2 separate regions of the Homo sapiens genome follow, and region 1 is linked to region 2. The links come from fine-mapping of genetic effects on gene expression. Tissue or cell type: whole blood. Region 2 holds a variant in brackets; the other region holds the start of a gene. All regions are shown on one strand. Distances are from middle to middle.

The links. PIP is the estimated chance that this variant, and not a neighbour inherited with it, causes the effect.
Region 1: GNA13 starts here. The variant in region 2 is fine-mapped to the expression of GNA13 in whole blood (INTERVAL, PIP above 0.99).

The regions. Positions count from the first base shown.
Region 1 is chr17:65,053,883-65,058,882 of GRCh38, reverse strand. It overlaps GNA13 (G protein subunit alpha 13), which reads left to right and starts at 2,143. Exons shown (of 4, transcript NM_006572.6): 1 at 2,143-2,572. The coding sequence starts at 2,290. RefSeq lists silencers at 1,856-2,365, 2,646-2,905.
Region 2 is chr17:64,997,958-65,003,217 of GRCh38, reverse strand. LOC124904044 (a long non-coding RNA gene) reads left to right here and starts at 5,169. Exons shown (of 2, transcript XR_007065877.1): 1 at 5,169-5,260. The variant A/G (reference allele first, on the strand shown) is at 2,967.

The DNA.
Region 1 (5,000 bases), 56 kb before region 2:
ATGTGAGCCAAGTTTGTTCCAAGGCAAGCTTACACGCAGGGCTTTAAACAGCTTTCTCTGCTGCTCTGCATGTCACGACATGAACTGGCTGGGCAGGAATACCTTCCTGCCTCCTAGGCATTCTTGGTTTTCCATTATATTACACACACTTCTGAAAAAAGATGTTAACTACCTAACTTACAAGTTTCTCTCCTCTTTGTTGGAGTTCAGATTAGCACCTGGGGTCAATGCAGAAACAGTGCTCGGGGACAGGTTCTATGCCCCAATCCTGGGAGAGGCGAGTCCTTGCATGGTTAGAGAACAGGGCCTCCCAAACACTAGATGAGATGATGGAAAAATTCTCCATCCAGGGCAGGCTTTTACCATATATTTTGCCTGACAGCACTGCTCAGTGATTCTGACTCTTATCAATCCACAGATATTGGAGGTGAGCCTACTCTACTTGTATATTGTAGGTTGTCCACCCTCTGGGCTTGCCAGAGCCACAGGAGATAATCCTACTACAGGCATTGTTTACTGCAGCCAATCTACTGAGTCGAGGCTTCTCGGTCATTAACCCAACCCCAGGGAGTAACTGATTAGTACCGATTTTAAAATTTAAACCTGTTCGGGAGTTTCTTGGAATGCTGACCTCTTACCTCCGCTCCCTTATACATACGAAGTTTCTGAGCCACAGGAGCCCAAAGCTACGTTGCATTGCCCAAAACAGGGACAGACCAAAGTGGCTTTTTCCACTTGAAACTAAATACTAAGAATGAAGAGGTCGGCTCTCGGGGGTCCCGGTTAAGCAGTTTCTCTGCCAACCCACAGCTGTCACTTGTGGCTTGTCTCCTGGCCTCCTTTCAGGTGTCCTGGCCTGAATCTGCTGTTAGGACAGAAAAAAAGTCCCTGGACGGGTCATATCCTCTGTAATCTGGCAGGAAAGCTAAAATTTGCGTGCTCCCATTCCTCGTTGTGTTTGTGTATCTGCTTCCTTGTTGGGAAGAGCCTACATCACAGTGTCCGGTGTAGGGGATTTTCACCATGACCTCACCCTCCTGCTGCCACTCGCTAATTCCGGCGCGGCCAAGCGTCCCTGAAGTCACATCACAGCCCAGGTGGAATGCACGAGTGAGCCATTAAATGCCCCTGGTAGCACGTCTCAAGTGAACATCAACTCCAGTTCTTTCCCCTCACAGAGAGCCCTGGTAGGGGTCTGAAAATGCCAGAAAGAGCTGGAAGTGGGGGTGGACGACGTCTGGTTACCGTTCTGGGATTCGGAGACTAGAAGGTCAAGGGAGTCACTTTAAGAAAACACACCAGGCCTGGGCCTGGTGGCTCTGTCTGGAATCCCCGCACTGTGGGAGGCCGAGGCTAGAGGATCGCTTGAGCTCAGGAGTTCGAGACCAGCCTGGGCAACATAGGGGGGAGCCCCTGTATCTAAAAATAAATACAAAAAATTTAGCCGGGTATGATGGCACACGCCTGTACTCCCAGCTACTCGGGAGGCTGAGGCGGAAGGATGGCTTGAACCTGGGAGGCGGAGGTTGCAGTGAGTCGAGATCGAGCCAATGCACTCCAGCCTGGGCGACAGGGTGAGACTCCGTCTCAAAAGAGAAAAAATAAAATGAAATAAAGAAAATGCACCAAAGGCCTGCCAGGCTCACGCCGGCTGTTCTGTTCGAATAACTTTCGAGTCCGTGGCCTCGAAATGGGTCGGGTGGGCGGTGACAGCGGGCAGCGGGCGCGCAACGCGGGAGAAAGGGAGGCTAAGTGGGAGCCCAAAGAACCGCGTCCGGGACCTGGTCTCCGGCCTCCCGGCCTTGGGGAAGGAGCCCTTCTGCCCACAAGTGGGCTCAGGCCATGAAAGGGAAACAGAAAGTCGGGCTCCCCAGCCTGGCCCACGTGACCGCGGTTCCTCAGCCCTCCCCGCGCGCCCGGCCGCGGCTGCGGGCGCGGGCACCCGAGCGACACATCGAGCTCGTGACTCGCCGCCCAGGGCGGGAGGCGGAGAAGCGGCCGCGGCGTGCGAGCGCGCCTCCGGGAGGCAGCGGGAGCGCGCACGCTCCGGGGCCACCGCCCCTCCGGGGCCGGGCCCGCCCTCCTTCCCTCCCTCCCTCCCCCGCTGTCCTGGCCCGCCCTGCCCGGCCCGCCCTGCGAGTCAGTTCGCTGGTTCCCTCCCTCCCTGGGCGCGCTCGGGCCGCCGCCGCGCTCCCCGCCCTCGAGCCTCGGTGCCGGAGCCGCCCGCCGCCGGAGGAGGAGGTGGAGGGAGCCGGAGGGGCCCGCCGAGGCGGCGGCGGCGGCGGCAAGATGGCGGACTTCCTGCCGTCGCGGTCCGTGCTGTCCGTGTGCTTCCCCGGCTGCCTGCTGACGAGTGGCGAGGCCGAGCAGCAACGCAAGTCCAAGGAGATCGACAAATGCCTGTCTCGGGAAAAGACCTATGTGAAGCGGCTGGTGAAGATCCTGCTGCTGGGCGCGGGCGAGAGCGGCAAGTCCACCTTCCTGAAGCAGATGCGGATCATCCACGGGCAGGACTTCGACCAGCGCGCGCGCGAGGAGTTCCGCCCCACCATCTACAGCAACGTGATCAAAGGTGCCGGGCCGGGAATGGGGGCCGGGGGTTAAGGGCAGGGGGGCTGGGGCGGCGGCGGGTGCGGGGCGGGGCACCGCCCTGGTCCGCTGTGTCGCTGGCGAAGGAACGGGCCCGGCGGGCGGGCTGGCGGGAAGGGGGCGCGCCCCGGCAACTGGCCCTGCCCGCCCGGGGTGCCCTCGCGCCCCAGGGCGAGAGGATGCTCGGGGTCGCCCTGCTCTCCCGCTTGTCTCCCCGGTGGGCGTCACGGCCATTCCCCCACCCCCCACCGCGTCCTGGTCTCTCCCCCTGCGAGAGGGAAGTGGGGCGAGCTGGGTGCTGCCTCGGGGTGTGGGCAGACCTCTCCTGTCCTCCCCGCTGCGGATGAGGCAGGAACACCAATAGCAGCCCTAGCCGCTTCACCCCCATCCCCTGCTCGGGCGATGTGGGCCGAACCTCGCTACCCTGGCTGGGTGACCCGAGTCACATGGGGTCGCATGCGCTCCCAACTCCCTGCTTCCTTGGCCGTCTCCTAAGCAAGCGAGTTCTGGAACCGTCGCAATAAGGGAACTTTTTGCCCGAGACTTCTTGTCAAGGGCGTAGGGTGACAGCCTCCTTTTGGGCGAGAATATGAAACTTGAGGAGTGTCAGGTTGACTGTACTGGAATCAGGAGAGAGTGGACCCATACAGTTAGCATGAAAATGTAGCATCTGTGCTTTTTCGCCCCAGTGTCACGGTCAGGTAGGATGTTTGCGTGTGATTTCTGTGCAACACGTTCCACTCTCCTTTTCGCTAAGTAACTGGGGGCTGGCAGGAAGGGAGTACCACTGCTTCTATTTAGATGAAATGTAGTAGTAAGAAGACTGGCCTAAAAGTCATGTGGATCCTGTACAGATGGAGACAATGAATGAGTGTTGAGTTAGATAATTGGCTCGGCTCTTTATTGACAGTAGTTTTAAAATTAAACTTTGTTCTTAAGTGAAAAATAAACAAGTTGTTTATTTCTGGGCATTCAAAGAAATCGAAAAGATGGTTTTTATTTTGTCATTTGAAAGATAATTAACACTCGTTTCTGCGTGTCAAGTATGTTCTATAGAAAAGGCATTTTGGCAAAATTTAGGTGCAGCGCCTGGTAACTCAGGTGCATCTGGATTTTATTTTATCTGGGGAGCAGTTTAGGAGTTTGCTACAGATTGCAGGTCTTTTTAAGTGGGATTTTTGTTCAGGAAGTACATAAGGGACTTCTGCATGTCACCCCCCCGCCCCCTCCCCGCCAACCGCCTCCCGAGCTTCCAGCGTTTGGGTAAAGGAAAACTGCCTGAAGAGCCAGGCATTATGGAGTAATGAATTAGAGAGAATCACTAGACCACAGCCAGCTCTAGCCCTAGTACCTCTGCAGTTAAACTATAAAGAACAGTTGTATTTATCCTGCTGTAATGTTTAGCTCAAAACTAATTAAGGTCTCTTTCAAGGCTGCAGACTCTGCCTTGACAGTCCTTAATTGAAGGTACCTTTGTAACCTGATGCAGCTGAACTTAAGGAATTATGTTAATGAATAGCATCAACATGTTAACTGACTGTGAGCCTGGTAAACACCTCGTTCTTAATGTACACTGAGTTGTAAGTGTGATCTACGTTGAGCATTGATTATGAGATGATGTAAGTCATCAGGAATCTAGTTTTTTCAAGTTGACATGAAATTTGACAGTAGAACAGTTTCTCAGGCTGGGCGTGGTGGCTCACTCCTGCAATCCCAGCACTTTGGGAGGCCAAAGTGGGAGGATGGCTTGAGCCCAGGAGTTCCAGACCAGCTGGGCTACATAGCCAGACCTCGTCTCTATTAAAAAACAAAAACAAAAAAACCCCACCCGTTTTTCAGTTATTCAGATGACTTCCTAATAGCCAAGTGACTGTTCAGATTGATCAAACTTAATAAAAGTAATAGATCAGTGATAGGAAAAATGAGTTTCAACTAACCTCTGTGAGTTGGAGTCCGACTTTGTATTATTTTGCAGTTGATCTTCCTCCCTTTTAGGGAAATTGAAGGCCATCCTGTAACTTAAACTGGATTGAAACTTGGGCTGGAAGAAGTTTTTAAATTTTGAATGTGTTGCTAGAAGACTCAATGTTGGGTTAGGGTGCCGAAGCAACAAACAGAACATGGAGCTATAGTAGTTGGTTCTTAGTGTTTCATAAATGAACATCTTTTAGGCTCATAAAACCTTGGTTGTGTCTGTTTTCTTCTGAGCTTGGACATTGTTGGTCTGTGCAGCATAACTTCTTTTTCTTTCTTGAGTTAGATTGTTTTTTGACTACCTTCTATCCTAGAAGTTATTTTATAAATTGGAACATGTTAAAAATCCTTCAGAGAGAGGAATTGTGCTAATAGTATTTGCTTTTCAAGGCTCTAATTTTAAGACAGTGAGCAACTGTTATTTTTTTTAACCTCTG
Region 2 (5,260 bases):
CCACCCACCTCAGCCCCACAAAGTGTTAGGATTACAAGCATGAGCCACTGTGCCCAGCCTTTTTTTTTTTTTCTTCTTTTTTTTTGAGGCACAGTCTCGCTCTGTCACCCAGGGTGGATTGCAGAAGCAGGATCACAATTCGCTGCAGTCTTGACCTCCTGGGCTCAAGTGATGTTCCTGCCTCAGCCTCCCAAGTAGCTAGGACCACAGGTGCGTGCCACTGTGCCCAATTATTATTATTATTTTTTTTTTGTAGAGTCAGGGTCTCACTGTGTTGCCCAGCCTGGCAGGGATACTTTTGTGGAAGAGAAGGTGTTTGGGCTGGGGCTTTAAAGATGTCTTAAATTTACCTAGACCTAACACGCAGGAAAGGCTGCATGCCAGATGGTGGAACATTGTGTCAGTAAGAAAGCCGGGAGTTCTTTCATTATCTAGCTTTGATCGAGCACCTTTCACTGATAGCCTTCTGTAAGGTGATGAGGGTAAGGAGGAGAAACAGTTCCCTGATCCCCACCCCCAAAAGTTCACTGTTTAGTAAGGGGAACAAAAATATGAAAGACTATGATAAAAGATGAGTCAGACACAGGTATGGAAGGGAGTCCTAGACAGAGGGTACCGCATGTGCGAAGGCACTGAGGTGTGTGGGGCTTACAAGTTGGGTAGCAGCAAGAACCCTAACCAGTTGGAAGATAGAAAGGTGGTGGATGAGTAGCAAGAGGTAAAGCTGAGTAAATGAGCAGTGAACATGTCATGGAGGTCCTCACGTGCCAGATCAACACCGTTGGCTTTTATCCCATGGGCATGAAAAACCAGTAAGCATTATAAGAAGTGGAATGGGGCCGAGTGCAATGGCTCACGTCTGTCATCCCAGCACTTTGGGAGGCCAAGGCAGGCAGATCACTTGAGGTCAGGAGTTCAAGACCAGCCTGGCCAACACAGTGAAACCCCATCTCTACTAAAAATACAAAAATTAGCCAGGCATGGTGGCGCATGCCTGTAATCCCAGCTACTTGGGAGGCTGGGGTGAGAGAATCACTTGAACCTGAGAGGCGGAGGTTGCAGTGAGCTGAAATCACGCCACTGCACTCCAGCCTGGGCATCAGAGCAAGACTCTGTCAAAAAAAAAAAAAAAAATTAGCCGGGCATGGCACACTCCTGTAATCCCAGCTACTAAGGAGGCTGAGGCAGGAGAATCGTTTGAACCTGGGAGGTGGTTGCAATGAGCTGAGTTCGCACCACGACACTCCAGACTAGGTGACAGAGTAAGACTCCATCTCAAAAAAAAAAAGAAAAAGAAAAAGAAAAACAAGAGGCAGAACGACATGACCTCAGCGGTATTACAGTAATCCCAGTGAGGGTGACAACTGGCCGGAGGCAAGAACTGAAGTGAGGGCTGCTGAGGTACAGGAAAAGCAAGATACCTGAGCTTATACATTAGCAATGGAATTGGAAGGAGGTGAATGAAAAGGATACTTCAGGCAGAAAACTGGACAGAGCACTTGGAAGCAGCAGGTGGAGGGAAGAGGGTGAAACCCAGCAGGCTGCCCAGGTTTCTGGTGGAGCAACTGGATGGAGCCATTCCTGAAATAGGACGTCTGGGGGAAGAAACAGACTTGGGTGGGCCAGGTAGGCTCTGAGGGACATGCTGAGTCTGAGGTCCCTTTGGGGCATCTAACTGCAGCTGGATCTACAGGTCTCAAGCTCAGTGGAGAGGTCTGATTGATAAAAGTGCAGAATGTAAGCTACAAGCACAGTGGCTGAAGCTGTGGGTTGTAGGGAGATGGTTCTAGGGCAGTGGTCCCCAACCTTTTTGGCACCAGGGACCGGTTTTGTGGAAGACAATTTTTCCACGGACCAAGTGGGGATAGTGGGTTTGGGATGATTAAAGCATGTTACATTTATTGTGCACTTTATTTCTATTATTATTGCACTGTAATATATAATGAAATAATTATACAACTCACCATAATGTAGAATCAGTGGGAGCAGTGAGTTTGTTTTCCTGCAACTAGATAGTCCCATCTGGGGTTGATGGGAGACAGTGACGGATCATCGAGCATTAGATTCTAATATGGAGTGCTCAATCTCGATTCCTCAAATGCACAGTTCACAATAGGGTTTGCGCTCCTATGAAAATCTAATGCCACCGCTGATCTGACAGGAGGCGGAGCTCACGGTAATGCGAGCAATGGGGAGCGCCTGTAAATTCAGAGGAAGCTTCCCTCATTCACCCACTGCTCACCTCCTGCTTGTGTGGCCCAGTTCCTAACAAACCATGGACCAATACTGGTCTGTGGCCCAGAGGTTGGGGACCCCTGTCCTAGGGGACTGACTGCCTAGAGTCAGGAGAGAAGTGGGCTAGCAGGAAACCTTGGCTTCAAGAGGAGGACAGAGAACTGTCCAAGTAGGAGCATCAGAAAGGCGTGTGCTCTCGGAGGGAGGGGTATCAAGGAAGCCAAGGAGGAAATCGAGGAAGAGAGAGAGACAGAGACAGAGAAATAAAGCAAGTGGTAAGATATTAATTGTCCATTATTCTGTTCTTAGGTGTTCCTGATTCTCTTCTTTCAAATTTTGTGTATGTTTGAAACTTCTCATCATAAAAAGTCAGAAAGAATAAAGAGATCATACCCTCATTGGGGAAATGTTGTAAACATAATCAGTTTCAAAGCCTGGGCTTGAGTAGGGTCCACACCAGAAGGCAAGAAGGACTGAGTTATGCTGGATCCATGACATCAAGATCTTTCATCTCAGCCAGAAGCCCCTCGTGGCCTCATTATAATGAAGCCCTGCGGGGCAGCGCTTTCTTGCCAGCCTTACTGTGCTCCATTTCTTTAATGGCCTTTTTGCTCAACAATACAAGAGATCCAAACTGCTATTCCAGCATAAGACATAACTCACTACATTTTCTCACTCAAGCTTTCAACTCTAACTAATGGATTTTCTTTTCTTTTTTTCTTTTTTTTGAG[A/G]TGGAGTTTCACTCTTGTTGCCCAGGCTGCAGTGCAGTGGCATGATCTCAGCTCACTGCAACCTCTGCCTCTCGGGTTCAAGTGATTCTCCTGCCTTGGCCTCCCAAGTAGCTGGGATTACAGGTGCCCACCACCATGCCCAGCTAAATTTTTGTTTGTTTTGAGATGGAGTCTCGCTCTGTCACCCAGGCTGGAGTGCAGTGGCGCAATCTCAGCTCACTGCAGCTTCCGCCTCCCGGGTTCAAGCGGTTCTCCTGCCTTGGCCTCCTGAGTAGCTGGGATTACAGGCGTGTGCCACCACGCCCAGCTAATTTTTGTATTTTTAGTAGAGATGAAGTTTCATTATGTTGGCCAGACTGGACCATGTTGGCCAGGCTGGTAATTCCTCTATTTTTAGTAGAGACGGGGTTTTGCCGTGTTGGCCAGGCTGGTAATTTCTCTATTTTTAGTAGAGATGGGGTTTTGCCATGTTGGCCAGGCTGGTCTCGAACTCCTGACCTCAGGTGATCCACCAGCCTCAGCCACCCGAAGTGCTGGGATTACAGGCATGAGCCACCGTGCCCGCTAATGGATTTTCTAGAGAATTGCTGTGCTGCTTTTTTCTTTCGTTTTGTAAGATTCTTTAAGGAATGAGAGTAGGGTGCTTCTGTGATCAGTAAGCAAGAACATGGGCTTTAACATAAGATGGACTTGGATTCAAATCCAGGCTTCTGTGTTTCCTGAGCTGTGTGGCCTTAGGCAAATGCCAGCCCCTCTGCGTGTCGCTTGCCTTACCTATAACACCTATGCGGCAGGTTCAGTTTAACATCAAATGCAGAAAGTGCTGCAGTGCCAGGCATGGGATAGGAATTGGGGGTAGCTGTTTTTTCTTTTTCCTAGAGACAGGGTCTCACTCTGTTGCCCAGGCTGGTGTACACTGGTGCAGTCATAGCTCACTGCAGCCTCCTGGGCTCAAATAATCTTCCAGTCTCAGCCTCCCGAGGAGTTAGGACTACAGGTGCTTGTGACAACATCTGGTTAATTTTTTAAAATTTTCTTAGAGTGGGGGTCTTCCTATGTTGCCCAGGCTGAGGGGCAGCTATTTTTATTTTTATCTACTTCTTCACTCCCTTTGCTTTGCCTTCCTTCTTTCCTCTTTCTCTATCATCCTCTTCGTTTCATTTGGGTTTTGCCTTGGCAATTTTCCCCCAAAGAAACTGGAAACCAGGCTGGGCATGGTGACTCACACATGACACTTTGGGAGGCCGAGGCGGGTGGATCAACTGAAGTTGGGAGTTCAAGACCAGCTTGGCTAATATGGTGAAACCCCGTTTCTACTAAAAAAAAAAAAAAATACAAAAATTAGCCGGGCATGCTGGTTTGCACCTGTAATCCCGGCTACTCAGGAGGCTGAGGCAGGAGAATCGCTTGAACTCGGGAGGCGGAGGTTGCAGTGAGCCAGGATGGAGCCACTGCACTCCAGCCTGGGTGAAGGGAGACACTCTGTCTCAAAAAAAAATAATAAAATAAAATAAACTGGAAACAAATGTGTGAAATTGTTGGGCTGTAGCATCACCTTTGCCACCCTGCAGTGATAGTGGAGCTAAAAGTCCCCTGAGAGAGGAGTCGTGTTGATGGTGGTTGAAGTGGGAGGGTGGAAATGGAGAAGTTCAGCCTTATATTAATAGGATCTGTAAGTAAAATTCACAAGCACCCCAACTGTGTGGTTGGCTGAGCATCACAGGTGTAAATTATTATTAACTCCATGCCCAACAGAATTCAGCTCTCCTCTATTTTTACTATAGGAAAACACACAATAGCCGTGTATTTTAATTTTTTTTCTTCTTCCGTCTGTGACTCGAGCCAAAGAGCAATAGCTGTTTTTTAAAGTTAGCATTGTGTTCAGGCATATAGTAAACATCCCTCAGTGGTGAGTGTTTTAACATTCTTTACTTTTCTCTTTTTTTGGGGTGGGGGGACAGAGTCTCACTCTGTTGCCCAGTCTGGAGTGCAGTGGTGTGATCTTGGCTCACTGCAACCTCCGCCTCCCAGGTCCAAGCTTCAGCCTCCCGAGTAGCTGGGATTACAGGTGCCCGCCACCATGCCCAGCTCATTTTTGTATTTTTTTAGGAGAGATGAAATTTCGCCATGCTGGCCAGGCAGGTCTTGAACTCCTGGCCTCAAGTGATCCGCCCACCTTGGCCTCCCAAAGTGCTGGGATTACAGCATGAGCCACTGTGCCCGGCCTTAACGTTCATTTTTCAACACGTAAATTCAGGCAAGATTAATAGAAAGAAAATGGGGTCCCAGATTGC